Linked DNA regions of Homo sapiens: region 2 is linked to region 1. The links come from fine-mapping of genetic effects on gene expression. A gene starts in region 1. The other region holds a variant in brackets. All regions are shown on one strand. Distances are between the middles of the regions. Region 1 holds the start of CEP68 (centrosomal protein 68). Region 2 overlaps RAB1A (RAB1A, member RAS oncogene family).

Region 1 (15,591 bases):
TGGTATCACTCTACACTCCACCAGCACATGTGAGGGCCAGTTCCCACGGGAGCCAGGGTCTTTAATCCTCACGTCACAGATGGGGAAACGAAGCCTCTGAGTGAGACAAGTCCAGGACTGCCCAACTCCAGAGCCCAAGCTGTTTATGAGCCAACTGGGGAATAAGTGATCAAACAGTTAAGCCACAAAGCAGAAGAGAGAGAAGACTGGTGGAGGGACAAAGAGAAGAGTGACAAATCTTGCTGAGACAGAGATCTTACGGAGCCACATCCTCACCTTGTGGCTCATTAAGAAACTGCACATGAAGACGTTTACAGGCAAGTTTTGTTTTCATAAGTAGGGGAACAGCTGCGCCCGTGAGCTAGAAAAACCAGGGTGAAGGCTGGGTATAGCCCATAATTCCCAATTGCTACTTCTTGCTCCATTTCTTTTTTTTTTTTTTTTTGAGACGGAGTCTCGCTTTTTCGCCAAGGCTGGACTGCAGTGGCGCTATCTCAGCTCACTGCAAGCTCCACCTCCCGGGTTCACGCCATTCTCCTGCCTCAGCCTCCCGAGTAGCTGGGACTACAGGCGCCCACCACCGCACCCAGCTAATTTTTTGTATTTTTAGTAGAGATGGGGTTTCACCACATTAGCCAGGATGGTCTCGATCTCCTGACATCGTGATCTGCCTGCCTCGGCCTCCCAAAGTGCTGGGATTACAGGTGTGAGCCACCACGCCCGGCCTCTTGCTCGATTTCTAAAAACTCTCTCAATGGCTAGAGATTCCCCACACCTCTCACTAAAGGGTGCGATCTTGAGACAAGGTGCTGGAATAAGATGATGATGGGGCAAGGGAGGGGTGCAAACAAATTATCCCTTTGTTTTGATCATGTACTTTTTATTCATCTTGTCTGGACCTCATTATTCAAAAAAGAAGGTATCTATTTAGCCTGGAGAGATAGGGAGTGGTGAGCTATTACAAACTATTCAGTTGACATCCCTAAGTAACTTACAAGGATACACACAAACCTAAACTAGGTTAGTAGTGTGGCCAAAGTCCCTTCAGCAACCAGGTAAGAAGATCTGAAATTCAATGATTTTCAAGGAAATTGTACGTCTGTAAAGACGGAATGAAGGTAGTTACTTTCTTAGACTGGATAAACAGTCCCTTCATAATCTTATTAATCTGCCTGACAAATCATGCTTTTCCCCCCTATTATACAAGTTTATTATGAGAACCAAGACAGACACATGTGAAAGAAAATAAAAACCAATCTATAATGCATTCAAAACTGTCTATGAAATGTTACCAAAATGCAACGAAAGGGAGAAATCAGTTGGGATAAAAATAATAGGGGAAAACTTCCTGAAGTAATGACTGAAGACAAACCTCTTTTAAAACAGCAATCATGCCGAAGAAAACACTGGCCCAGGCTATGATAAACGCACAAGTTTTGGATTCCTAGGACTCAACCCTGTCTGCATCTGGCCGGTGGCCATCTGTAACACTGCATGAAGGTCTGGTCTTCATTTCCATAGATCCGAGATTTTACACATCATTCCTCCTAACCCTCTGGGGTAGGGGTGGGGGCGATAGATTCAGGTTGCACTTCTAATAAGAGGCAGCTTATCCTTCTCAGACTGGTGAATAGCGCTTGTTGTCTTGGACCCACACAGTCTCCCAGGTCATCAGCTTTAAACAATTTCCTAATGTGGGGCCTCCCGTTCTCGGATCACACATTTTACAGTGCTCCTGGAGGCTAGCAGCTCCATGATGGGGCACAGGCCCCCGTCGCCTCCCAAATGAAGGAAGTGCCAGGAGGTTGGACTGAATGACAGGAGACATCAGAGCACAGACAGTGAACTCAACCTTACCCTCTGAGAAAGGTCTGTACACAACAGAACTGCCTTGTCCTTTGTCAAACCAAGAGACAAGCCACATAAGCTTCAGGATATTCTAGGGACCATCTGGACTTTGCTATTAAAATTCTGTTAGTTTCCAGAACCTGAAGAGGCTGTATGATCCACCAGATATAATTAGGAGTGATGTAGGCTTGGCTTACTCTTGCCCTACAGTAAAAATACGCCCACAAATCATGCATGTGGTAACACAAACTCTAAGCCTGGACATCTGACCCTTCTTCGTATATGCTGCATCACCCTAGGACACTCCTGTCACAGCTGCCGGGCTTCCTCCCACTCACTTCTGTCCAAGATGGAGAGAGGAGGACTGGGAACTGTGGGAGGGGTGAGGCTCTGCTCTTGCTCTTGACTAAACCCCTCAAACAGATGAATGATCAACTAGAGAGCAATCCTCCTTTCAACAAAAAAGGACCTCCCCTAGGACTATTTTTTTTTTTGAGATAGAGTCTCGCTCTGTCGCCCAGGCTGGAGTGCAGTGGCACGATCTTGGCTCACTACAACCTCTGCCTCCCGGGTTCAAGGGATTCTTGTGCCTCAGCCTCCCAAATGGCTGGGATTACAGGCGTGCACCACCATGCGTGGTTCATTTTTTGTATTTTTAGTAGGGACAGGGTTTCGATATGTTGCCAAGGCTGGTCTCGAACTCCTGAGCTTAGGCAATCCACCCGCCTAGGCCTCCCAGAGTGCTGGGTTTACAGATATAAGCCATCACGCCCCGCCTCTTTTTTTTTTTTTTTTTTTGAGATGGAGTCTCACTCTGTCGCCCAGGTTGGAGTACAGCAGCGAGATCTTGGCTCATTGCAACCTCTGCCTCCCGGGTTCAAGCAATTCTCCTGGCTTAGCCTCCAAAGCAGCTGGGACTCCAGGTGCGTGCCACCATCCCCGCTAATTTTTCTATTTTTAGTAGATACGGGGTTTAACCATGTTGGCCAGGCTGCTCTCGAACTCCCGGCCTCAAGTGACCTGCCTGCCTCGGCCTCCCAAAGTGTTGGGCTTACAGGCGGGAGTCACCGCACCTGGCCAGGACTCTTTAAGTCGTGAGCTCCCTTTGAAACAATCTCATTTATACCAACTTTGCCCAGGGAGCTCTGTTCTGGCAAGGGCTCGTCTCTTACCTGAGCGCACAGTCACCTGTGCCAGCCACAGAGGCCAGGTGTTGCTAGACTGAGCAAGCCCTATGAGTTCAGGGCCAAAACCTCCAAACCTGTTTTCACAGGAGGCCACAGGAATAAGTGATAATTGCCATGAACACACAGTGGCAGAACCTGCCCAGAGAACCAAAGAGGCTTTCCATGCTGCTCTTTCTCCAATAACATGAAACTGTCCACAAGGAAACAGAAGGCAGGACCCAGCAGAGCTTGCTGGAAGAACTCTGGGGGAACTAGATTTATGGAATAAAGGAGCTTAAAGGCAGAGGCCAAGCAGGCATGGGAGGTCACATGAAAGGAGGTAAAGACACGTAGGGGAAGCCAACAAAGGGGCCAGTCACAAAAGGTGACTGAGGCCTGCTTCAGGGTGGCGTGGGTGCCAGGAAAACTGTGGCTGGAGGCCTGAGACTGGGAGGCCAGCAGCAAAGAGCAACTGCTGCTCCACCTGCTCCTGCCCTGCTGGGAAGTCCCCCTGGAGCCCCACAGTCCCCCACACCAGCCCTGTCTTTCACTGTGGGATAGGTCACTCTGAGCACTTTGTCCCCCTTCTCTGCAGGTAAAATCAAAGTAAAGTGAAAATGAAGAAAAGACTCAAAGCTACGGAGGGTAGACTGTGTCTGCTGTGGCTTGGCCATGGGCCGAGGCCATCCCCAGGATCCTTGGGCACCGGGAGCCCCTTCTTTTCTCCCCAGGGCTGCTTCTGGAAGTTTTGCTTAGAGTCAAAAGAACAGAAGGAATCTCCCAGGGCCCTAGGAGGAGCCAGTGGGTCCCTGTAGATCAATGCGGTAGGGAGGGCTGTGGGCTAGGCTGCTTGGCTGTCTGTTCCCTCGCCTTCTCACTCACTTATCTGTTGGCTGACTGACCAGGGCTACCAGACAGCCTCCCAGCAAGGCCAATGTTCTCATTTACAAGGCAAGGTCTTTAGGTAGCCCTTTTTTTTCTTTTTTTTAATTTGAGATGGAGTCTTGCTGTGTTGCCCAGGCTGGAGTGCAGTGGTGCTATCTCACTGCAACCTCCACCTCCCAGGTTCAAGCAATTCTCCTGCCTCAGTCTCCTGAGTAGTTGGGATTACAGGCACCCACCACCACGCCTGGCTAATTTTAGTATTTTTAGTAGAGACAGGGTTTCACCATGTTGGCCAGGCTGGTCTCGAACTCCTGACCTTATGTGATCCTCCTGCCTCGGCCTCCCAAAGTGCTGGGATTACAGGCGTGAGCCACTGCGCCCAACCTAGATAGCCTTTAAAGAGATGTAAGTCACATCTACAAGGAGCTTGACTGAGTCCCAGCTACTCCTCCCCTCAACCCCAAGCTCTCTGGCCTCCTCAGCAGTCAGCAGAGTGTCCATGTGTAACAAAGCTCAATGTACAAGGATGCTGAGGGCTGAATATGTCAATCAACAGCACCTTTTTTCTCACTAAAGAGCAAAGCAGAAAAACACCTTCCTTATAACAAAAGTCACTGTCAGAAGAGGCTGTACCTGGACCACATGGGTGCATTTCCACAGACCACTGCTTTTACTATACTGACAGTTTTTATTTTTATTCATTTATTTTTTTTTAAGAGACGAGGCCTCGCTATGTTGCCCGGACTGGTCTCAAACTCCTGAACTCAAGCAATCCTCCCTCCTTGGCCTCCCAAAATGCTGGGATTACAGGTATGGGCCACTGTGCCCGGCCCTGACACTTTTTTGTGAGGTCATCAGGCTGCACGTATGAAGACTGAGAAGAATCTTACCGCTCTCAAGAGATACTATTAAGATTGCCACTCACTGTACCATAGCATTCTCTTTGGAGAAGCCATGGGAGAATTCTCTGGCCTCAATAACAGAAACAGCTGTCTCCATTCAGCAGACATTTTCACTTTATAAGTACTGGCAAAACTGATAAAAAAAAATTTCCCTCTTTGCTTTGGCTGCTACAAAGCTCAGGGCCAAATACACAATCTCACCTGAGTAAAAGGCATAGGACAGAGAGGTACTTGCCTTTTTGTGCTAATTTCTTCCTTGACTTTCTCCTATTTTTTTTTCACTCCATGTGCCTCAATTGCTGTTATTAAAAATCTTATTACATCAAAGTATGTTGGAACAATTCCTCAAATAGTTTTTTTTTAACAAGATAGAGAAATTGTTAAAACAAAAAATAGAAAAAAGCTCCTAAACCCAAGATTTTATTCCAATACCATAAGAAAATAAAACCCATTTACCCAATACTTCTAAAAAGCAAATGTAGATACTAGGGTTAGCACTTCACTATCAAAGTGTGATCCAGCACCAGCAGCATCTGCATCACCTCAGAGCTCGTTGGGAATGCAGATTCTCAGGTCCTGCCCCAGAACCTTGGAATGAGAACCTGCATTTTAGCAATATCTCCAGATGACTTGGTAAGAAAAATGTTTCAGAAGCACTGGGTTGGTAAGTAAGGCTGTTTCAGCACCCTGAGAAGGAACAACTAAAATAGCTTTACAACCATTCCTTGGGTGCCTATATGCCAGCCACACACAAGAAGAAAATTTATGGCCCTTGTCTTCAAGGCCTTTGCAACAGGACATTAGAAAAGGCTTACACCTTGTGGCAGGTTTTTAATGGCTAATTATAGAATACCACAGCTGAAAGGGAGTCCCCAGAAATAATAGTATTCCCTAGAAAGAATTTGAGATTCATGATGGCTATGTTAAAAACAGAATCACAGACCTGAATTTCTCCTGTGCCAGTTACAAGTGAGGAGGGGAAAGGTATTTGTTTTGGAAACTGGAAATAATTTAAGAGAAACCAATATGCCAAGGGAGCTTACAGCTACAAGGAAATGTGCAACTTAACCTGTTTCCTGTAACCAGAAAGTGGTGCAGGAAAACCTGGAAGTGACGCAGTGTCCCCCAGGAGTTGTATCTGACACTTCTAGCTGGCAGACAGGTCTAAAGCCAACAGGAACATTTCTTGGGCTTTTCATGATGTTGGTGAACAACATTAAAGATAGGAGACAGTTTCTTCATGAGAACAGATTTAAGTTATAAGGAGAGTCCACCTCCATAAGCTCTGCTTCTTTCTGGATGGATCAACCAGGTAAAGATTTTTTGTCAGCCACATGAGGCCCCCATCTATTTAGCTCCTCTGATTTTACATGACCATTTCAGATAACAGACCCCGTTAAGAATGTATCAAGTACTACTGTAACTCTTGGCCAAATTGCTATTTGGCACCAAATCAATCTTTAGTTGGTGGTGAGACTCCAGACACATAAACAGATAATCTTCTACGGAATACTTTCACTGTGGAAAGAGAATCAGGAAAGGCTAAAGGGATGTTTAAAAATCAGACATCAGGCTGGGCATGGTGGCTCACGCCTGTAATCCCAGCACTTTGGGAGGCTGAAGTGGGTGGATCACCTGAGGTCAGGAGTTCAAGACCAGGCTGGACAACATGGCGAAACCCTGTCTCTACCAAAAATACAAAAATTAGCGGAACACGGTGGTGGGTGCCTGTAATCCTAGCTACTCGGAAGGCTGAGGTAGGAGAATTGCTTGAACCCGGGAGGAAGAGGTTGCAGTGAGCTGAGACTGTGCCATTGCACTCCAGCCTGGCCAAGAAGAGTGAAACTCCCTCTCAAAAAAAAAAAAAAAAAAAAAAAAAAGGAAAAAAATCAGCCATCGGATAAGGTGTCAGGCACCGTGGCTCATGCCAGTAATCGCTTGAGCCCAGGAGTTCAAGACAAGCCTGGGCAATATAGAGAGACGTCATCTCTACAACAAAATAGAAAATTAGCTGGGCCTGGTGATGTGCACCTGTGATCCCAGCTACTTGGGAGGCTGAGGTGAGAGGGACTCGACCCCAGGAGGTTGAGGCCACAGTGAGTTGAGATCATGCCACTGTACTCCAGCCTGGGTGATGGAGTGAGACCCTGTCTCAAAAAAAGGGATCGGATAAGGACCAAAAAACAGAGAGATCCTGAAGGGTCAAGTACTATACAGATATTTCATATTGGTGAGTGTATTCAAGTATCCATTTATTTTTCTCCTAACGACTGCTAACAGCTAACAGCTACTGATCATTTTCTTTGTGCCAGGAACTATATTAGGCACTATACATCAATATCTTATTTAATCCTAATAACTCACCACACAGGTACTACTATTATTCCCATTTTTAAGGATGAGGAAACCAAGGCACGGAGAAGTTAAATAACTTAATGACACGCCTGTAATCCCAGCACTCTGGGAGGCAGAGGCAGGAGGATTGCTTGAGCCCAGGAGTTCAAGACCAGCCTGGACAACATGGCAAGACCCCCATCACCATTAAAAAAAAAATTAATCAGAGTTAGTAACATGGCAGAGCTAAAGCCTGTTTGACTTAGAGAGCCTGAGCTTAGCTGCCTTCCTAACCTGTAAGAATAACTCGCTCAAGAAGTTAAATAAATGTTTCTGTTGTGTCACCTTTAGACTACCACGCTGATTTTGTTTCCTTTTGGCTTCCTTCCATCATTGAGTGCCTTTTATGTTCCAAGCATTGTGCTAGGGGCTGGGGAAACCACAATACAGTGTGATGAGTAAAAACAGAGGCTGCAGAAGGTAGCCCAAAAAAGGGAGGAGTTATCAGTCGCAGGGTGGGGAAGTGCTTTAAAAAGCTTTGCGCAAAAGAGGTTAAACTGAATTCCTTGGGTTTTTTGTTGTTGTTGTTTTCTAAGTGGGCCAGAATTGACTCAACAGAGGGTGGGAAAGGGGAATGGAGGGAACAAAGTAAAAAGTGGTGACTTCTAGATCTTTCAACTAAACCCAAGGCAAACTGACCCAACAACCTTTGTTACACACTTTAACACAACACTCTTCATACCCTAGATCTGAGAACTGTTAGATTATTTACAAACGCTACCTCCCTTCGTGGTCCTGATGAATTCCCAGTGAGGTCCAATCTGCCCTGGCAGGCTTCCGCTCATTTTTGTTACAAACAATACACTAAACCCAACCTACTAATCATCAAGGGCCTGGAACAGGTTTTGGACATTCGTCCCCAGGCTGCTGAGAACTGTTCTAGTGATGACAGTTAGAAAGGGTAGCCCTCCGAGGCAAAAAAAATGAGACATCTTGATTTTTTCTCTCCGCATCTGGGCGCGGCGATAAGAAGACATCACTGGTCTCCATCTTTCCAGGGGGAAAGGCCCGAGCTGCATTAGCCCCGACTGGGGAGCTGGGTAAACAGCCCACGCCCGGGAGAGGCCTGAGGGAAAGTGACCTCCCCCGGGGCCCAGGCCGACCAGCGGCGCAGCTGCTCGGCCGCCAGATGCGCGGACTCGCGCACTCCCTCGCCGCGCCCGGGCATTCCCAAGCCCAGCCGCCCGCCTCGGCCCCGACCCCTCGGCCGCCACAGCACACGCCGTTCCGCTCGCAAGATGGAGGCGAAGGCACGAGGCGCCCCCGCCCCCCAGGGAGCCTTTGTGCCCTTGCCGGCGGGGACGCGAGGCCAGACGGCCCGCACCGCAAGGGCCCCGCAGGCACCGAAGAGACGCGGGGGAGGGGGCCGGGCGCGCGCGCGGATCTAGCCCGGGCCACCGCCCCCAGCGCCGCGGCACCCCCGACACCAGCACCCGCACGCGGGACACTGCCTACCTACCGCACCGCGAACGCTTCGCACGTCCGGAGCGGTCTCAGCAGCCCCATGCGCTGGCCCCGAGCTGGCGGACCCTGACTGCAACTGCGGCCCTCCAACCGCAGCCCAAAACGCGCAGGGCAGGACCGAGCGCCAACCACGCCCTTCGGCCGCGCTGACCACGCCCTTCTTCCCGCCCCTTCTCCCTCCGCGGGAGGGCTTTCGGCAATTTCGCGCAGCGAATCGCAGCTCTAAGTCCGCGGCTCCACCAATACGTGGACGCTCCTGCAAGATGAGCCCGCCCCCTACTTCGTCCTGGCCTATGGGAAGCCGGGACTTCTTCAGCGGCTGTCCTCCCTCGCTTTTGGAGCTCCGACCTCAGCTTCGCCTGCGAGCTGGGTTGTGTAAAGGCTGGTCATTTTGGGGCGCTTAGGGGTGGGTGCCGGGGGGCGCGCTTTCCCTCGTGAAGGTCGCTCCAGGAGTCATGCGTACATTCGTTCATTTTGCTCTGGACGCACTGATGTTCCCGGCTCGCCGCCGTGCCGCAGTCACGAGGCTCTCCGAACGCCTTTCACTGTGTTTCTGTTTACATTCGCGTCTGCAAGACCCGGCGGCGCGACCGAGGCCCGAACAGGTGCTGCGAGGCGGGGCGGGGAGCCAGTGCTGAGGGGAGCTCCCCAGGCCGGGTGGTTGAAGACAGCTTCTGGGGGGAGGTGGAGCTCTGGCTCGTGGAGAATGGGAAGGGTGTGGAAAATGAACTGGTAGCTACTTAGCCACTCTGAGCAGCCTGCTCTGATGGGAAATCGGTGATGGAGTCGGAGGGAAGTGGGAGGCAGCTTGTGGGAGGCCAGGGTGCTCACTCTCTCCCCTGCCAGCATGGGACCTAGTAACTTTCATACATCTCTATCTATCTATCTATTTTGCAAAGATGGGGTCTTGCTGTGTTGCCCAGGCTGGGCTTGAACTCCTGGACTCAGACGATCCTCCCGCCTCGGCCTCCCAAAGTGCTGGAATTACAGGTGTGAGCCACTGCATCCCATCCCCTAGGAGCTTAATGACACTGCCCTTTAGCTTTTACTGCTTAGCAGAATCCGGAGGCATAGAGGAACTACCACCAGGGTGGCGTGGGGAAGAGGCCCTCCCTTCTGATGATTTTCTCTCAGCAGCACTTTCAGCAATCTGGCTTCAACTGAATATCTCCCCAGTTCATAAAACAGGCGTCTGTAAATGTCAACCCCAGCTGGGTGCAGGGTACAAATTTTTTCCTACAGAGCTCTTGAGTCCCAGGTAGTTTAGGAGACAAGGACTTGTTTGGTTTTCCCAGACCTGTCAGGACAGCTCAGAGGTTTTGTCTAACCCAGGGGCCACAAACTTTGGACAACAGCAGCAGCTAGCCCACAGATGGTTTTATTTGGGCATCGCATAGCTTTTCTTTGTTTGTTTGCTTTTGTTTTTTAATAAGAATTTGAATCCCACCACCACCACTGGTCCATTAAGTAACAGCCAGCCTTCACACATTTGCTGCCTACCTGAAGGCATTTGTGTTTGTGACCCTTGATCTTTTCTATACACAGAAGACCTCCAGTGGAGTCACCTAATCCCACAGCCAAGTCACCCCTGCTGGACAGAGAACTGTACAAAGTCCAAACAGGCGTACATATCCTGTATGGTTTCCTCATCTATAAAGAGAGGGGATAGGATGAAGGAGTCCCAAGGTTCCTTTTGGTTCTGATGTTCTGTAATTTTGTGTTGTGAGCAGCTTTTGTTTTTGCCTGACGGGAAAACTTTCCTTTGGGAATTGTCTGCAGTCCGCTGGGTCAGATGGTTCTTTAGCACCGCACTTCTCCGGTCTCCCAAGGCAGGATGGGTGTGGAGAAGGGGAGGTGTGGAACCCAGGCCTGACCAGCTGTAGTCTCCCTCCTCTTGTTTTCAGATTTCCCCAGGGATGCGCACATGACCAAACCTGAGATGATCTGAGCCCTTGTCGGGGATTTTAGAGAATGAGGCTGGGAGAAAGAGGCTCTTTCTTTTGGTGTTTCTGAGCGCGGGAAAAGTAGGCCTAGAGCTGTCTGTAGTTATACTCCTTGCAGCAGCAATGCTGGAGAACCAGGCCTGGAAATGTTAGGAACCAGCTAAGCCATCCTGCTTTGGTACTCTGATTAGGGTGCGTACCAGCTCCTTTGGTGGTGACATGAATTATTTTTCAACTCTTCTCACTTAAGATTCAAGTTTTGGGAAGGACCATTTACTTGGCCTAGTCTAGGTTATGTGCCTGTGTTCTGATTGCCAATAGGCAAAGAGAGTTCTGGTTTCTACTGTGGCTTCTAGTCTGGGAGGCCTAGCCTCATACCAAGACTCAGTGTGTGGGGGCCTCCCCTCAAATAAGAAGAATGAGACGCTGGGTTGCCAAAAGTTGCTTCACTATAGTCCGTCTCTTAGGCTGCCCAACATTCACAGAAGTGCTTTCAAAGGTAAATGAAAATGCTGCCATCCAACAAAATGCGAGCATCTCTCCTATAACAAAATTTACTTATCCCTTCCCCAAAGCAGGGCATCTCAAAATCTCCTCATTTACTGTATTTGGCCCAAGTCTAACTTCTGTAGGTGATGTTCCATTCTTCCTTTCAGTTTCATCATCATCCCATCCCATCGTTGTAATGTGTAGACTAAATTGTAAAGTTAAGCATCACTGATAGACTTTAGATACAATTGTGAAAAGAAAGGAAATGAAAGAAAAGGACAATAGCTAAAAACTCCATTTATATATAATACAGCAAGAAGGGAAATACTGTTAGAGGTTACGATCTTCATTTTTGTAACTGGTAATGAAGCTTTATTGTCATTTACAATTTTCCTTCTCCGCTAACCATTCCAGGTCCCTCTTTCCTTCACGCAACCCCTCAGCTGGCCAGGATTCTTTGCCTGGTTGGGTTAAGCAAGCTTTTGTTCTTGAGGAGGTTGCCTGTAGGTAGGTTGTCTGTAGTTTGTCTGTAGGTGGTACAGTACATTGCCATCAACTTGTGCCCTGGCATGAGAGTGATGAGGTGCCTCAGGAGATCTCCTGTGTTCTATTACTGCTCCTCTTGCCTCCGTGGTGTAACAGCAACCCCACTTCCTCCTGAGAGTCAAAATCAGTCACCAAACAACATGTGACCTGTGGCATGAGGAGACCACATCAATTTCAGTTCTCAGTTAATAGGAACCATTGTTGTAGGTTCTGGTGAAAGCATTGTACTAAAATATCTAAACCAGCTGGTTTGAGGAAAAGCAAAGTATAAATTTTGAGAAGAATCATTAGGTATGATTTGAGAAATACCACACCCATTGTTACCAGCAATGATATTCTGCTGTGGAAGAAACTATTGGTCATTGGTTCAGAGTTTTGTCTCCCAGTGGGCACTTGAACTAATTTTTTTTTTTTAATTAAAAATTTTGGTCAGCTGGTGGCTTCTTGCTTGGTGGCCAGGAGCCAGATTTCATTCTGGGCAGGAGCAAGGTGCAGCCAGTGGGAATGCAGGAGAGGCCAGGTGCGTGTTTTGGGACTTTCGGAGCAGCAGCCTGGGAACCAGCAGAGAAGATTCTGTCTTCCAGAGGTTGCCACTGTCTGCCAACTCACTTGTCTCCATCCTCAGTCATCTTTTAAAAGTACATAGCGACACTCTAGCTGTCTGGTTCTTCATGGGGAATGTAATTGAAGTCTGACATCATTCCTATTGCCCTGAAGTCTGAAACTTAGTGTCATTCTCACTGAAAATTGCCTTGGAGTTTGACAAACTCTTTCCCCAGTGATATTGACAGGTTGTTTTGTTTTTGTTTTTGTTTTGTTTTTGAGACAGTGTCTCACTCTGTCACCCAGCTGGGGCTGGAGTGCAGTAGCACGATCTTGGCCCACTGCAACCTCCACCTCCCAGGTTCAAGGGATTCTCCTGCTTCAGCCTCCCAAGTACCTGGGATTAGAGTCACCCACCACCACGCCTGGGTAATTTTTGTATTTTTAGAAGAGATGGTTTCATCATGTTGGTAAGGCTGTTCTTGAACTCCTGACCTCAGTTGATCCACCTGCCTTGGTCTCCCAAATTGCTGGGATTACAGGTGTGAGCCACCACACCTGGTCAGATCCGAGGTATTTTGAACTAAACAGAACAGCAACCAACATCCATATAAAGTAACTACAAGAAAAAAATTAAAAACCATTTTAACTAATGAAAATTCTTTCCACCAACCACAATTCCATCCAACAGCCAAAAAGCAGAGGAAAACTAACAGTATTCTTCATATGAATTAAATATCATTTAGTAAGCAGCTGTAGCTATAAAGAATACCAAAAATCAGACATTAAAAAACTCAAAATAGAAATGGACACAAAGCAGAAAACTATAAAATGAGAACTGATGAAATTCAGGAAAGAAGTAGAAGAAAAAGCCAAAATAATCTTGAGATATGGAAACTAAATTACATTGTGTCCACGGGAAAATAGGTTAGCCTTAAAAGTCAAGAAGGAACATTGAAAATAAATTTAAAACAGCCAAGAGAACCCAAAACAAATTTGGAAAAGAAGGAAAAATATTAGAAAAAAAGTGAGAGATATAGAAGATAGACAGAAGTTAACATATGCATCATTGAAGTCTCCAAAGAAAAGAAACATAACAATGAAAGAAAGCTATAACTGAAGATAGTTTTCTGGATATAAAATAAAACATGAATTTTTGGGACCAAAGGTACCTTGAGAAACACTGAGTCAGTATCATTAGCCTCAGTGAAATGCAAATCAAAACCACAATTATAGCCACTAGGATGGCTATAATAAAAAAGGTAACGTGTTGATGAAGATGTGGAGAAACTGGAACTCTCATACATGGCTGGTAAGAATGTCAAATGGAGGCTGGGCACAGTGGCTCACACCTGTAATTCCAACTCTTTGGGAGGCTAACATGGTAGGATCGCTAGGGCCCAGCAGGTCAAGGTTGCAGTGAGCTGTGATCGTGCCACTGCACTCCAGCTTGAGCAACAGGGTGAGACCTTGTCTCAAAAGAAAGGAAAAAGAAAAAGTATGTCAAATAATACAGCCCCTTTGGAAAGCAGTCTGGAAGTTTCTCAAAAGATTAAGCATAAAGTTACCATATGACCCAGCAGTTCCACTCCTATATATGTATGCAAGGTAAATTAAAACGTATGTTCATACAAAAACTTGTACATGATTGGTTATTGCAGCATTATTCACAAGAGCCAAAAAGTGGAAACAACCCAAATACCCATCAACTGATGAATGGGTAAGTAAAATACAGTATATCCATAATATGGAATGTTAAAATGGCAGTAAAATCAATGCTACAGAATGTAGACGGACATTTTTATACAATGTGGGTGAACCATGAAAACATGCCAAGTGAAAGAAGCCAGTCACAGAAGACCACATAGATGATTCCATTCGTATGACACATCCAGAATAGGCAAATCTATGGAGACGGTGGATTAGCAGTTACCTAGGGCTGCAAGAGTTGAGGGGAATAGGAAGTGACCACTAATGGGTAACAGTTTCTTTTAGGGGTAATGAACTAAATTTGATTGTTCTAAAATTGACTGTGATGATGCTTGCACAACTCTGAATAAACTAAAACCATAGAACTGTGTACTGTAAATGGGTGAACTGTATGGTAGGGAAATTAGATCTCAATAAAGCTGTTTTTTTTAAAAAAAAGATATAGAAGTCAACTTGAAGGACTTTTTTTTTTTTTTCTTTTTTTTTTTTTGAAACAGAGTCTTGCTCTTTCTCCCAGGCTGGAGTGCAGTGGCATGATCTCAGCTGACTGCAACCTCTGCCTCCCAGGTTCAAGTGATTCTCCTGCCTCAGCCTGCTGAGTTATAGGTACTTGCCACCACACCCGGCTAATTTTTTTTTTTTTTTTCCAGTAGAGACAGGGTTTCACCATGTTGGCCAGGCTGGTCTCAAACTCTTGACCTCTGGTGATCCATCTGCCTCAGCCTCCCAAAATGCTGGGATTATAGGCATGAGCTACCACACCTGGCCTTGAAGGACTTTTTCATTGGCCAAATTTGGGACAATCTGCAAATAAAAAATAATGTTAATTACGATTTAATTACATTTTAAGTATAATTGTATTTAAGTATATTTGAGATAATTATATACTTAAATGTATAATTAACTTCAACATAATTAGGTATATAGTTAAGTATATATGCTTAATATATGATTATATTTAAAATATGTTTATATATTAAATATATTAACAAGTATATTAATATATAGTACTATATAATAAATATGTTTAACATAATATATAAATATATAATAAATGTATTAAATGTTAATGTAAAATAAATATTTGTAATCTATAATTATAATTGATTATAATATAATAATTTTTTGAAAATCATGGTCCATAGTCAATCTCAAACAAAACATAAGAAAACAAAGAGAGAAAAAGAAAAGCTCATCTTTACAGAGTGATAACTGTAAGAGGAATGTTAGATTAGACAATTACCCTTTTGGAAACTCAAATGTAATAATTAACCAATTAACCAAGATAAGGATTACTAATGAATGCTAAAACTATTGGGAAAAAAGTTTCTGGGAACAAGGTATTCACACAGACTCCCAAGTATTGCCCCACTGATTATTTACTAATTACAAAAGGGAAATTATGCATTTATAATGGAAAGATCAAACAATTACCACCATAACCAAGTGATCAAACATCACCAATAATGGGACTACCAGACATGTGCCTCCTAAGTAGAATTCTTTCCAAAAATATTTAACCTAACTTCCTGCTTACAGGAAATACAGTAGATACTGGTATAAGATGAACACCATTAGGAAGTAATCATCTCCAGAATATGGGATATTATGTAGCTGCACCAGACCAGTTTGGTTCAACTTTTATGTAACAAAAGTTATGAGTTGTTTTTCAGTTGCTAATGGAGCTTCAGGTCATGTAAC
Region 2 (15,591 bases), 50 kb before region 1:
ATAAACAGTAGAAGTTTATTTGGCCTGTGGTTCTGGAGGCTGGGAACTTCAAGAGCATGGTTCTGCCCTTTGTGCTGTGTTATCATATGGTGGAAGGTGGAAAGGCAAGTGAGTATGTCAAGACAGAGAGCAAGAAGGGGCTTGAACTCACTTTTATAACAGAGTGACTCCAGAGATAGCTAACCCACTTTTGAGAGAATGCATTAATCCATTCATGAGGGCAGAGCCCTTGTGACCTAATCACCTCTCATTAGGCTCTGCATCCTTAAACTGGTTTTTTTTTTGTTTTTTTTTTTTGAGACGGAGTCTCGCTCTGTTGCCCAGGCCGGACTGCGGACTGCAGTGGCGCAATCTCGGCTCACTGCAAGCTCCGCCTCCCGGGTTCACGCCATTCTCCTGCCTCAGCCTCCCGAGTAGCTGGGACTACAGGCGCCCGCCACCGCGCCCGGCTAATTTTTTGTATTTTTTTAGTAGAGACGGGGTTTCACCTTGTTAGCCAGGATGGTCTCGATCTCCTGACCTCATGATCCACCCGCCTCGGCCTCCCAAAGTGCTGGGATTACAGGCGTGAGCCACCGCGCCCGGCCCCCCTTAAACTGTTGTATTGGGGATTAAGTATCTAACACAGGAACTTTGGAGGATACATTTAAACCATAAGAATTCCTGTCATGCAAATGAATCCATTCTAGATGAAAGAGAATGAATTTAGTTTCCATTGAACTTTATAAATAGGCCTTTTCTAAGGTACTTACAGCTGATATTATAAAATTTATATTTGTTTTTATAAATTTGTATTTGTATTTCTGTTTGTACAAATACAATTATACACTATAGTTCTCTGCTGTTAGATTTTTTTTCTTCCTTAGCATGTTTCCAAAGGGTGGAATGTTGAAAGTTGGGTTAATGTCAATCAGCTTTCTTTTGTAAAGTGTTCATTGACATGTGAACCTTGTCTGAGAATCTAAATTTTATTTCATGAAAGAAGAAAACAGTATATTCTCATTTAACCCAGAATTTAACTTCATATACTTGTGGCTGTATTGGGAGTATGCCATTGCTGTCTGTTTACAACCTGACCTACTCTACCTACTTAGAAGTAATTTGTGTTATGATAGGTGTGCTGTGCTGACATATGCTGAACATATTTGTAAGGGTGTTAAGTCATTGAATAAAACGCTTTTCTCCTCCTTTCAAATAACATTTTTTATTTCTGGTTATAAAAGTCATACAAGCTTACTGCAGGTTGTTAAAAAGGTATAAAGAAGAAACCGTCAATCCATTATAGTCCTACAGTTTAGACTTCCTGCTCCAGCCTCTCAGAGTGCTGAGATGAGCTAGCCATGCCCAGCCCCTCAAAAGATTTTTTAAAAAACAAAAATGAGGTTATACTTTAAAAAATTCTATATTCCTTTCACATAACAGTGTTATTTTGGAGGTTTTAGAATTTCCAGTAGCATTTTAGATTCAGAAACAAGCTGATTCATCCTCTACTTTGTACTTTAGGCAAGAAAAGAATTTTACCTAAATAGAATTTTGAACTGAAAATCTGTTTTTCTAACTTTTTATTTAAAGAATATTGTTCCATGCTTTCACAGTAGTGACTTTTAATTTTTATATTTTTTATTTTATTTATTTAGAGATGGGGGTCTCACTCTTGTTGCCTAGGCTAGAGTGAGTGCAATGGTTCTATTCCTAGCTCACTGCAACCTTGAACTCCTGGGCTCAAGTTACCCTCCTGCCTCAGCCTTCTAAGTAGCTGGGACTACAGGTGTGCACCACTGCACCAGGCTTTTTTTAAAGGCATAGAAAATGGTAGTGCTTGCATACAAAAATGGCGTAGGTACATACATCAGCGGACATCAAGACTATGTTCAGATCATAAATGTACATATATGTACCGATGCCATTTTTGCACGCAAACAAATAATGGAAATTGAACTCTAAACTGAAATTTGAAACAAGGGTTCTGGGGTGGGCCCTCTTGCTGATTTGTAATTGAATGTATAGTTCAATTTTTCCCCATCTGTTAAGCAAAAGACAATTCTAATGTTAGCAAAAATCCACATATCCTGTCATTGATCATTTTTTCCTTAATTTTCTTTAAGAGATGGGGCTTCTCTCTATGTTGCCCAGGCTGGTCTGGAACTCTTGGGCTCAAATGATCCTCCAGCCTCAGCCTCCCAAAGTGCTGGAATTAATAGGCACAAGCTGCCGTGCCTGGCCCTGTCATCAGTCATTTAACTTCATGCAAACTGAGTAGAATAAAACTCGTCCTTACTGTACCTTATTGCTTTTGTTTTATTGTTGGAACCTCCAATATTGCGAAAGTAGACCAAAAGTTGACTTATAGGAAAAACTGATAGCAAAAATAATTTTTCTCTTGTTGCTGTATTTCATGCCCACCATCCAGTTGTTAAAGCCTACTGTTAATTTCTCTCAGCCTCCTCCTTTCTGTCCAGGCTTATTCTATGCCATTCTTACCTTAACTGTTTTTAGCTTTCTCATAGAGTGAACTTTTTAAATTAAAATAAAATATCTGCTCGTAGTATTATAAAATTCAAGCAGTTCAACAGAATTTTTCACTAATAGAAATACTTGTACCTCAAAAGCAGCTTTATTTTACAAACCCAGCCCAATTTGTGATTAGATTTAACTTGAGAAAACATGAAATGTCTCTCATATTGTTTAAAAATATCATAAGTGGCTGGGTACGGTGGCTTATGCCTATAATCCCAACACTTTGGGAGGCTGAGGCAGGTGGATCACTTGAGGTCAGGAGTTTGAGACCAGCCAGGCCAACATGGTGAAACCCCATCTCTACTAAAATACAAAAATTAGCTGGGCATGGTGGCACACACCTGTAATCCCAGCTACTAGGGAGGCTGAGGCAGGTGAATCGCTTGAACCCGGGGGAGGTGGAGGTTGCAGTGAGCTGAGATAATGCCATTGCACTCCAGCCTAGGCAACAGAGCAAGACTCTGTCTCAAAAAAAAAAAAAAAATCATGAGCTAGCATTTTTGAAGTGATTGTTTGTCATTTTTCGTTTTGTTTTGTTTTGTTTTTTTTGAGATGGAGTCTTGTTCTGTTGCCCAGGCTAAAGTGCAGTGGTGCGATATCAGCTTACTGCAACCTCTACCTCCCAGGTTCAAGCGATTCTCCTGCCTCAGCTTCCTGAGTAGCTGAGACTACAGGTGCGTGCCACCACGCCCGGCTAATTTTGTATTTTTAGTAGAGGCAGGGTTTCACCATGTTGGCCAGGCTGGTCTCAAACTCCTGACCTCAGGTGATCCACCTGCCTGGGCCTCCCAAAGTGCTGGGATTATAGGCTTGAGCCTCGCCTGGCCTCCTCATAATTTTTTAACCTTTATAAAAACCTTTTCTAAAACCCTTTTTATTTTGAACTAAATTTAGATTTACTGAAATTGTGAAATCAATGTGGAGTTCTTGTATACCCTTCTTTCCGCTTTTCCTAATAGTAACATCTTACATACATGGTACATTTGTCCAAATTAAGAAATAAACATTGGTACAGTGTTAACTATAGACTTAATCTGGTTTCTCTAATTTTTTCACTAATGTTCTTTTTCTGTTCTAGGATCTAATTCAGTATACCATATTGTATTTAGTTGTAGGCCATGTTAGCCACCTTCAATCTGTGACAGTTTCTCAGTCTTTCCTTCTTTTTCGTTATCTTGACAAGTTTGAAGAGTGCTGATAGGTATTTTATAGAATGTCCGTCAGTTGTCTGTCAGTTTGTATTTGTCTGATGTATTTTTTTTTTTTTTTTGAGATGGTGTCTCGTTCTGTCGCCTAGGCTGGAGTGCAATGGCATGATCTTGGCTCAATGCAGCCTCCACCTCCGGGGTTCAAGTGACTGTCCTGCCTCAGTCTCCCAAGTAACTGAAACTACAGGCATGTGCCACCACGCCTGGCTAATTTTTTGTATTTTAGTAGAGAAGCAGTTTCACCGTGTTGCCCAGGCTGGTCTCGTGCTCCTGAGCTCAGGCAATCCACCCGCGTTGGCCTCCCAAAGCGCTAGGATTACAGGTGTGAGCCACCATGCCTGGCCAATATTTTGAGGGATATACTTTGGTGAGGTCATGCAGATATCCTGTTTCTCCTTAGTTTTATCCATTAATTTAGCATTTATCCAGTAAATCTTCCTTGCAGCAATTATTTTTTCTTTTTCTTTTTTCCTTAATTTTTTTTTTAAGAGATGGGATCTCACTCTGTTGCCCAAGTTGGAATGCAGTAGTGAGTTCATAGCTCACTGCAGCCTCAAACTCCTGGGCTCAAGTGATCCTTCTGCCTCAGCCTCTCAAGTAGCTGGGACTACAGGCATAGACCACCACACCCAGCTAATTAAAAAAAATATTTTTAGAGATGGGGGTTTTGCTATGTTGCTCAGGCTGGTCTTGAACTTCTGGCCTCATGTGATCCTTCTACCTCAGCCTTACAAGTAGGTGGGAATTACAGGTGTGAGCCACCACACCCAGCATTGCAGCAATTATTAATGTAGTGCTACTGGTCATTTTCTGTTTTTCTCATTTCTTCAGCATGTGTTATTGACTTGTCTCTTCCCTCCCATTTATAATCATTTATACTGCTATGAATTCATGAGTATTTATTTTGTGAGTTATAATCTAATACGTACTTAATTTATTTTGTGCCTCAAATTGTTCTGGCTTGGCCATTTTTTTTTTTTTTTTTGAGACGGTCTCGCTCTGCTGCCCAGGCTGGAGTGCAGTAGCGCCATCTCTTCTCACTGCAACCTCCACCTCCCGGGTTCAAGCGATTCTCCTGCCTCAGCCTCCTGAGTAGCTGGGACTACAGGCGTGTGCCGCCACACCCGTCTAATTTTTTGTATTTTTAGTAGAGACAGGGTTTCACCATGTTAGCCAGGATGGTCTCGATCTCCTGACCTCGTGATCTGCCCGCCTCAGCCTCCAAAAGTGCTGGGATTACAGGCGTGAGCCACCAAGCCCGACCGGCTCCTGTATCCTTTTAACATGAGGTGCTGTCATCATTTTTTCCCCCTAATATTTTGGCCAAAAATGTTAATCAAGGATGGCACAAATTTTCTGTAGCTGTATCTCACAACGAAAGAGGCCTGATTAAAAATGTAAAACTAAAATGTTCTCTGATCTCTTAGCACATGCTTTGTAAAAGGCACAGTGCTAGATCCTTGTATACGTAGATGAGTAAGTCAGCTTACCTTCCACACCCACAGATAGCTATGTCAAACGTAAGGGTGGAGAAACACAGACCCCAAACTTCTCGAGGGTAGAAAATATGAGGTTATAGTAGATTAGAACTACAAAAAGCTAGAGGAAGTTCTGAACTGGAAACAGTGGATAGGATTTACTAGAATAATTTACGAGGGTGACAATTGTAAATCTTCATAGGTTTCTTTTTTTTCCTTTCTCTTTTTTTTTTTTTGAGATGGAGTCTCGCTCTGTTGCCCAGGCTGGAGTGCAATGGCGCAGTCTCTCCTCACTGCAACCTCCGCCTCCTGGGTCCAAGTGATTCTCCTGCCTTAGCCACCCAAGTAGCTGGGATTACAGGCATCTGCCACCATGCTGAGCTAATTTTTGTATTTTTTTTTTTAGTAGAGACGGGGTTTCACCATGTTGGTCAGGCTGGTCTTGAACTCCTGACCTCAGGTAATCCACCCACCTTGGCCTCCCAAAGTGCTGGGATTACAGGTGTGAGCCACCGCGCCCAGCCAAATTTTTATTGGTTTCTAAACTAGCATAATTTAGTTTTTTTCACTTAAGTCAAAATTATATTATTGTAGGATAAAAACTTAGTGATCCAAATTCATGAGGAATGAAGAATAAATACATTTAAAGTCTTACCATTTGCTAAATTAGTCTTGGCTCTTTGTACCAAAATTCTGTCCTTGTGCTCTGTAATTTTATATTTGTATATTTTCTATCAACATTTTTACTGTGTGGTGTTTTGTAAATTATAAAAACGTTTTAAAGCAAACTCAGAACAATGAATTCTCACGAATATTCAGTATATTTACAGTTGAGAAATAAACTACTTCTGTAGTAGGTAATTTAAAATGTCCCAATGCAAGTTAACGTGTCACTGATCACGCTATTCAAGTGTGTGTCTTTGATAAGGGGAGGTGGGGAAGTTTGTGGGTTTGATTTTATTTGCCTTTCTCATGTGACTGTTGTCATGTTAGTAAACAAATGGTTTGCGAGAGAACCAGTAGTCTTTTGCAAAGATTGTCTTATACAGAGCACTCAATTCTTCATATTATTTATAATGGCTTTAATTTAAGCCTTAAATTATTAGAAACTCATAAATAATTTTTTTATTTGTTTTTTTGAGATGGAGTTTCGCCCTTATTGTCCAGGCTGAAGTACAATGATGTGATCTTGACTCACTGCAACCTCCGCCTCTCGGGTTCAAGTGATTCTCCTGCCTTTGCCTCCCAAGTAGCTGGGATTACAGGCATGCGCTACCATGCCTGGCTAATTTTGTATTTTTAGTAAAGACGGGATTGCACCATGTTGGCCAGGCTGGTCTCGAACTCCCAACCTCAGGTGATCCACCTGCTTCGGCCTCCCAGAGTGCTGGGATTACAGGCTCACTGAGCCACTGTGCCCAGCCATAATGCGTTAAAATAAGAGTGTTATATTTGTAAAACTTAAAAAAATGTAGTGGTTGAAAAAGGTAATTTAAAAAGAATTGACTATTAATTTCTTGAAACCATAATGTAACTTGTAGTGCAATTAGGAAACCTTCATGTTTCTTTCTTTCTTTTTTTTTTTTTTTGAGATGGAGTTTTGCTCTTGTTGCCTAGGCTGGAGTGTGTGATGTCAGCGCACTGCAACCTCTGCCTCCTGGGTTCAAGCAATTCTCCTGCCTCAGCCTCCCGAGTAGCTGGGATTACAGGCGCCTGCCACCACACCCAGCTAATTTTTGTATTTTTAGTAGAGGCGGGGTTTCATCGTGTTGGCCTGGCTGGTCTC[G/A]AACTCCTGAACTCAGGTGATCCACTGCACCTGGCCCCCGTTCATGTTTTTTAAAGCTTTATGGTTGCTCTGAAATAGAGTTGTTGATTTTTTTTTTTTTTTTGAGACTCCTCTTTTGCCCGTGCTGGAGTGCAGTGGTGTGATCTGAGCTCACTGCAACCTCCACCTCCTGAGTTCAAGCAATTCTCATGGGTCAGCCTCTCAAGTAGCTGAGATTAAAGCTGCCCACCACCATGCCTAGCTAATTTTAGTATTTTTAGTAGAGATGGGGTTTCACCGTATTGGCCAGGGTGGTCTGGAACTTCTGACCTCAGGCATGAGCCACTACGCCTAGCCTGGGTTGTTGATCTTTAAGGTGATACTTCAGGCAACATCTGAGGCCCAGTACAGTCCTTTACTTCAACTGGCTCCAGTACAGCAAATTCAGGGAATGTTTTTGAGTGTTTACTGGATGCCTGGCGTGGAGTTCAGGGAGATTGGTACATTGAGTCCAGTTGTTGTGTTGAAACTTCTGTTTAAAAACCTCCCTACTAAGTCCCAGCTACTCAGGAGGCTGAGGCCTGAGAATCACTTGAACACCTGGAGGCAGAGGTTGCAGTGAATCGAGATCGAGCCACTGCACTCCAGCCTGGGCGACAGAGTGAGACTGTCTAACAACAAAAACAACACCCCCCAAAAAACCAACCTACTATGGTAGTATCAATGCTGTGATAGTCTTCCTTTCTTCATACAGGTAAATTCTTAACATATACTCATTGTTAATGTTCAGTGTTCAGTATTCTTAAGAGTATTTGGGGCCAGGCACGGTGGCTCATGCCTGTACTCCCAGCACTTTGGGAGGCTGAGGTGAGCAGATTACCTGAGGTTAGGAGCTTGAGAACAGCCTCCAACATGATGAAACTCCCGTCTTTACTAGAAATACAAAAATTAGCTGGGTGTGTTAGCACATGTCTGTAATCCCAGCTACTTCAGAGGCTGAGGCAGGAGAATTGCTTGAACCTGGGAGGTGGAGGCTGCAGTGACCTGAGATTGCTTCACTGCACTCCAGCCTGGGCAACAGAGCGAGACTCTTGTCTCAAAACAAACAAACAAAAAAAGAATATTTGGGGCCAGGCATGGTGGCTCACACCTGTAGTCCCAGCACTTTGGGAGGCCAAGGCGGGTGGATCACTTGAGATCAGGAGTTGGAGACCAGCCCGACCAACATGGCTAAATCCCGTCTCTACTAAAAGTACAAAAATTAGCTTGAGCAACAGAGCAAGACTCTGTCTCAAAAAAAGAAAGAAGAATATTTGGTTTAATTAAGAAGGAACCTTATCAATAGTAGTAAAGTCAGCCAGCTGAACTGCCAAGTACAAATTGTTGGTATTAGGTATCAATCATTTATTAAGGATAATATTCTACAATAGCGATCTTTTTAAAAATTTTAAAATCTCAAACTGGAAAGGATGTCTAGTTCATTCTATGCTTCAGTCCCCTCTTCTGATTTACTTGTTTAGAAGATTTTTGTTTCCTTCTCTGACTTCTATTTTGCTGCTGACTGGCACTTGGGATTTTTAAAAAATTATTTTCCTCATATATAATTAAAGACAATAAGTATAACAATAAGTATAATATGGTAATTTGCTAAAACCCAAACAATGTTTTAAGTAATGCATATCATTATGTAAACCTACGTAATAGTTGAATATTCACAAAGATAATCGCTTATAGAAGTTTTATATCCTCTCTTCTTTGGCAGTGCAATTAAAACAAAAAAAATAAGTTTTATGTCTTGTTTACATGTAAATAATTTTAATCTAAATTGTGACGTGGTTTTCACTTTAGCATATTTTTGAAAGTAAATCAAAAAGGACAAAATACAAAATCATGTATATCTTCTACAAAAACGATATATAAATTCTAAGGTTTTTGTCCTTTTGAAATTGCTTAAAAGAATGCATAGAACTGGTGTCTGAGTTGGGAAGGATCTATGAGGGATTTCCTTGGAGACTGTGGGTGAATAATAATGTTGTCTTAGTTCCATGAAGGAATCTCTGGGGATAGTTTTTGAGTTAGGCCTGGCAATGTTAGAGATACATAAAGAGAGCCTTGTTTTATCACTGGGTGCGGTGGCTCACACCTGTAATTCCAGCACTTTGGGAGGCTGAGGCGGGCAGATCATGAGGTCAGGAGATCGAGACCATCCTGGCCAACACGGTGAAACCCGTGTCTACTAAAAATACAAAAATTAGCTGGGCGTGGTGGCGCATGCCTATAATCCCAGCTACTCGGGAGGCTGAGGCAGGAGAATCACTTGAACCAGGGAGTTGGAGGTTGCAGTGAGCCGAGATCGCGCCACTGCACTCCAGCCTGGGTGACAGAGCAAGACTCCGTCTCAAAAAAAAAAAGCTTGGTTTTCAATGGTTCTGAAAAATGCTTTAATACAAGTGTAGAGTGTTAGTCAAGTTTTGCACTTGGATAAACAGCCTGTGAATTTATCACATTTCTAGTTTATAATATGGGCTTTCAGAAGTTATATGAACATTGTTTTGACGGGAGAATTCAAGCTGGATGCTAGAGAAGGATCGTGAGAACCCCTTCATTGGAGGAGTGCTATGAAATTATTTGATCTTGGAATTTTTTTTTTTTTTTTTTTTTTTTTTTTTGAGACAGAGTTTCGTTCTTATTGCCCAGGCTGGAGCTGGAATGCAGTGGCACGATCTCGGCTCACTGCAACCTCTGCCTCCTGGGTTCAAGCAATTCTTCTGCCTCAGCCTACCAGGTAGCTGGGATTACAGGCATGCGCAACCATGCCCAGCTAATTTTTGTATTTTTAATGGAGACGGGGTTTCACCATGTTGGTCAGGCTGGTCTTGAACTCCTGACCTCAAGTGAACTGCCTGCCTCAGCCTCCCAAAGTGTTGGGATTACAGGTGTGAGCCACTGCGCCTGGCCTGATCTTAGAATTTGAAGGAGAGACTAATATTTCATGGGCAAAAACAATGAAAAGTTACCTTTCTGTATTCTAATACTATAGAGGAGTGGGATTTATTTAGAATGTTTTAAGTATCTTGGGCAGTCCAAGAGTGCGTATCACTTATTTTTCTTTTCCTTCTTTCTTTTTAAGTGGAAGTTCACTGATGTTAGAGATCATAGGTGGCATTGCCTACTTTTTACATAATTTTATCATGTTTAGTGATCTGTCAGAAGGGCTGTGGCTGTTTGCAGTTTTGGCTTAAGCCATGCATGGGCTTTATAGGAGATGTAGTCTTCACAGTGAGTTGTTATTTGTAGCTGTGTTTTTGTTTTTGTATAGCTTATAGCAATGCAGTGTGCTTTTTATTAACATCATTTTCTTTTTCTTTTTGCAGTGATTATTTATTCAAGTTACTTCTGATTGGCGACTCAGGGGTTGGAAAGTCTTGCCTTCTTCTTAGGTTTGCAGTAAGTTGAAATTGAAATGTCTTTACAATTAATGGTACAATTAATGCTATGTATGTTTTCTAGGTAGATAAAATTAAACAGTTTTATTCAGAATAAGTTAATTCTTCCAGAATTTATATATTTAAAGACTCCAAATATACATCCCCAGTGGTATCTTGGACTGTTAAATAGAAAAATATTGTTGCTCTTAAAAGAAATTCAGTGAAGTATGGTTATAAAGTCAGAATGTCTAATACTTTTGGTCAGAGTCAAACAGCAGTTCCAATATAGGCAGCAAGTTAAAGGGGTAGTTGGTGGCCTGTGTTGAAAGCGACTTGATGAAAATAAATCTTTAAATTAAACTTTAGTAGAATAAGAAGAAAAAGCAGAGCCAGGTGACGCAGTGGATCATGCCTGCAGTCTCAGCTACTCAGGGTGCTGAGGGTGGAAGGATCACTTGAGTCTAGGAGTTTTGAGACCAACCTGGACAACATAGCATGACTCTGTCTCTGAAAAAAAAAGTTAATAAAAGAAAAAGTAGGGTCTTGGACAAACTTCGTTGGCCAATGGCATAGTTCTAAATGCTGAAGCTGACAGATAAAGGACTTTTGACTTAACAGAATCCACAGTGTCCTTCATAGTCTTTATCAACTACCTTTAAATTTAGCATGTTTCCTGGCCAGGTGCGGTGGCTCACGCCTGTAATCCCAGCACTTTGGGAGGCCGAGACGGGCGGATCACAAGGTCAAGAGATCGAGACCATCCTGGCTAACACGGTGAAACCCCGTCTCTACTAAAAATACAAAAAATTAGCTGGGTGTGGTGCCACACGCCTGTAGTCCCAGCTACTCGGGAGGCTGAGGCAGGAGAATCGCTTGAACCCAGGAGGCGGAGGTTGCAGTGAGCTGAGATGGTGCCACTGCACTCCAGCCTGGCAACAGAGCAAGACTGTCTCAAAAAAAAAAGAAAAAAAATAAAAAAACAAATTAGCATGTTTCCCTTCTAGAGATCATTGTTTCTCAGAGCATGGACCAAAGACTCCTGGGGGTTACCAAGACCCTCTCAGGTAGCCCATGAGGTCAAAATATCCTAATAATACTAAGATGTTAGTATTTGTAAGGAAATATTTACTTGGTAATAATACTAATATAAAAGATGTTTGCGTTTTTCAGTGATGACATTGGCTCTGGTACAAAAGCATGTGGGTAAAATTGCTGCTGGCTTGGTACACATCAAGGCAGCGCTAAGCTCCAAATTGTACTCATGGTGATGGCATTCTTTACCTCTGTGCCCTCACAGGAACAAAAACAAGCCGTGCCATTTTTATTGAAGATTGTCCTTGACAAAACAGTTAAAATGATTAATTTTTGAAAAATGTTGATCCATGAGTATTCCTTTAAAAATATTTGTGAAGAAATGGGAAGTTCACATAAAACAATGTTTTTTTTTTTTTTTGAGACAGATTCTGGCTGTGTTGCCAAGGCTAGAGTGCAGTGGCGTCTGGCTCCCAGGCTCAAGCTGTTCTCCCACTTCAGCCTCCCAAGTGGCTGGGACCTCCCAAGTGGATGCGCCATCATGCCTGGCTGATTTTTGTATTTTTTTGTAGTGACAAGGTCTCACTGTGTTGCACAGGCTGCTCTCAAACTTCTGAGCTCAAGCGATGCATGTGCCTCAGCCTCCCAAAGTGCTGGAGAAAGCACTTTTTACTGCATACTGGCTAGTGTGTTGGTTATTTTGGAGAAAAGAAAAGCATTTGTAGTTTTTTGAGTTGTAAGCTGAGCTAACTGCTTTATTTTTTTCTGTGGAACACCATTTCTTTTTTTTTTTTTGAGATGGAATATTGCTTTGTTGCCCAGGCTGGAGTGCAGTGGCACAATCTCGGCTCACTGCAACCTCCGCTTCTCGGGTTCAAGCAATTCTTCTGCCGTAGCCTCCCAAGTAGCTGGGATTATAGGCACCTGCCACCAAGCCCAGCTAGTTTTTGTATTTTTAGTAGAGATGGGGTTTCACCATGTTGGCCAGGCTGGTCTCGAACTCCTGACTTCGTGATCCGCTTGTCTCAGCCTCCCAAAGTGCTGGGATTACAGGCGTGAACTACTGCACCTGGACATTTTTTTTTTTTTTTTTAACTTGAAAGAACAGCTAACAGACAGATTAGAACAGAATTGGCTATTTGACAGATTTTCTCAGATGAACTGTGATAGTCATTTCAAGGGAAGTAGCTGCAAGCATTTGTTGGCTGAAATAAAATTTAAGTTTATCATGGAAAATTAGAATTTGAAAAAACTTAGAGTTTACCACTTGACAGTATCCTAAATACATATGACTTTTCTGATGAGTGCCGATATTAATGAAGGTTATTTAAAAAATATTAAATAATGTATAATTCTTTTTATATAACAGTTAAAAATAAAACCATGAGTACTAGAATAAAACATAGGTGGCTCTTTAATCTTGGTTTGTGAAGGTATTTTTTAAAATAAGAAAAAAGCAAGAAATCACTGCTAAATTTGACTATTAAAATTAATTTATCACAGGCACAAAAATGTTAGAAAACTAATGGCAATAGCAAATATATATATATGAGGATTGGTATTCTCAACATATAAAGCACATTTGCACATCAACAAGAAAAGAATATTTCTCCTAATGGAAATAGTGGCAAATACATGAGCAGTCAGTTGAAAAAAGAAGTAATACAAATTGCTGGCTGGGTGTGGTGGGTCACGCCTGTAATCCCAGCATTTAGAGGCTGAGGCTGGCGGATCATCTGAGGTCAGGAGTTCGAGACCAGCCTGACCAACATGGAGAAACCCTGTCTCTACTAAAAATACAAAATTAGCCGGATGTGGTGGCGCATGCCTGTAATCCCAGCTACTTGGGAGGCTGAGGCAGGAGAATTGCTTGAACCCAGGAGGCGGAGGTTGTGGTGAGTCGAGATCGCACCATTGCACTCCAGCCTGGGCAACAAGAGCGAAACTCCATCTCAAAAAAAAAAAAAAAAAAAAAAAAGGAAGTAATACAAATTGCCAATAAATATGGAAAAAAAAAAAGGCTCAACTTTATTTGTAATTAAAGGCCTTTAAGTTAAACTTAGGTGTCATTTAATTTTTATTAAATTGGCAAATATTAAAATTAAGCATAATTCTTAAGCAACTCTCGGTAGGTGGGAAGAATCTAGCTGTAGCCTCAGGCGTTTGTGCCTCAAGGAAAACCCTCTCTGGGATGTCCATTGCTTGAAGTCAAAGGTTTTCCAATAATACCTGGAAACTATTTTTAAAATGCTGATCCCCATACCCTCAAAATATTAATAGAGACAATCGTGAGGACTATAATAAAGAAATGTGCAATAAGCTCTGGGGGCACAGAGGGAAGAATCTATTGGCTGAGGAGTTGAAGAAATTGTTTGGACACTCAGTATTGCCTGAGCTCAAAACTGAAGGATGAATAAATGCCACATGACCTTGGGGCTGGGGAGTAAGTAGGGTTATGCAGAGAGAGATAACTGAGGCTTTTGGGCAGACGAATAGTAACGGCTCAGGCATGGGAGTAAAGGTCATTTAGAGATTTACAAGAATTCAGCATTTCTTTCTTTTTCTTTTTTTTTTTGAGATGGAGTCTAGCTCTGTCATCCAGGCTGGAGTACAGTGGCATGATCTCAGCTCACTATAACTCCCACCTCCCGGGTTCAAGTGATTCTCATGCCTCAGCCTCCCGAGTAGCTGGTATTACAGGCGTGTACTACTGTGCCTGGCTAATTTTTGTATTTTTAGTAGAGATGGGGTTTCACCATGTTGGTCAGGCTGGTCTCCAACTCCTGAGCTCAAGTGATATGTGCACCTCTGCTCCCCAAAGTGCTGGGATTACAGGCGTGAGCCACTGTACCCGGCCAAGAATTCAGTATTTCTATCCAAGTACCTGGGGGATAGATGTGCTACATGAATATTTATTGCATTCATTTTGTTCTCTGCATTTTTTTTTTTTTTTTTTTGGTTTGAGATGGAGTCTCGCTCTGTCGCCCAGGCTGGAGTGCAGTCGTGCAATCTCGGCTCACTGCAGCCTCCACCTCATGGGTTCAAGCGATTCTCCATCTTGGTCTCCTGACTAGCTAGGTTTACAGGCGTGTGCCATCACACCCACTAATTTTTTGTATTTTTAGTAGAGACAGGGTTTCACCATGTTGGCCAGGCTGGTCTTGAACTCCTGATCTAAAGTGAGCCTCCCACCTTGGCCTCCCAAAGTGCTGGGATTACATATGTGAGCCACTGCGCCTGGCCTCTATATACTTCTATAGTACCTGATACTTATTAGGCACTCAATTACAACATAACTTTTTTTTTTTTTTTTTTTTTTTGAGACAGAGACATGCCTTGTCGCCTGGGCTGGAGTGCAGTGGCACAGTCTCGGCTCACTGCAACCTTCACCTCCCGGGTTCAAGTGATTCTCCTTCCTCAGCCTCCCGGGTAGCTGGGATTACAGGCGCCCGCCACCACGTCCAGCTAATTTTTTGTATTTTTAATAGAGATGAGGTTTCACCATCTTGGCCAGGCTGATCTCAAACTCCTGACCTTGTGATCCACTCACCTTGGCCTCCCAAAGTGCTGGTATTACAGGTGTGAGCCATCATGCCCGGCCCATATTTCTAAAAACATTTTCTTATAAAATGACATTGCCATTATCAACCTGCAAAATACAGTTTCCATTTGGTTGTTTTCTTGCTTAGTCTTTTAATCTAGAGTTTTATACCTTATCTTTTTTATTTATATATTTTTTATGTCATTGACTTTTTGCAGAAACTGAAGCACTTGTCCTGTAGATTGTCCAATATTCTAGATTTGTCATTTTGCTTCCTTGTGATGTCCTTATGCTTATTTGTTTGTCCCTCTTTCTGTAATTAGAAGACCTAGAACTGCACTATCCTTAGAGTAGCTACTAGCTCTATGTAGCTATTTAAATTTAAATTAATTAAAATTGAAAAAGTTTGGTGGCTCACACCTGTAATCCCAGCACTTTGGGAGGCCAAGGTGGGAGGATTGCTTGAGTGCAGGAGTTCAAGGCTTCAGTAAGCTACGATTGTACTCTAGCCTGGGAGACATCAAGACCCTGTCCCTTTAAGGGGGAAAAATAATTGAAAAAATCAAAAACTTAGTTTCTTGTTTCACAAGCTGCATAGGGCTAATGGCTACCATATTGGCTA

What was found. PIP is the estimated chance that this variant, and not a neighbour inherited with it, causes the effect.
Region 2: its variant is the best candidate, but not a certain one, in a credible set for the expression of CEP68 in blood mononuclear cells (TOPMed, PIP 0.77).

The regions. Positions count from the first base shown.
Region 1 is chr2:65,049,588-65,065,178 of GRCh38, reverse strand. It overlaps CEP68 (centrosomal protein 68), which reads right to left and starts at 8,763. Exons shown (of 7, transcript NM_015147.3): 1 at 8,651-8,763. LINC02576 (long intergenic non-protein coding RNA 2576) reads right to left here. Exons shown (of 3, transcript NR_183398.1): 3 at 11,437-12,799. RefSeq lists enhancers at 3,497-3,998, 8,931-9,170 and silencers at 7,531-7,610, 7,621-7,670, 8,301-8,640, 8,721-8,830, 14,538-14,710.
Region 2 is chr2:65,099,558-65,115,148 of GRCh38, reverse strand. RAB1A (RAB1A, member RAS oncogene family) reads left to right here. Exons shown (of 6, transcript NM_004161.5): 2 at 10,343-10,415. Among named protein-coding and RNA genes, the nearest start is that of RAB1A, 23 kb to the left of the region's middle. The variant G/A (reference allele first, on the strand shown) is at 6,990.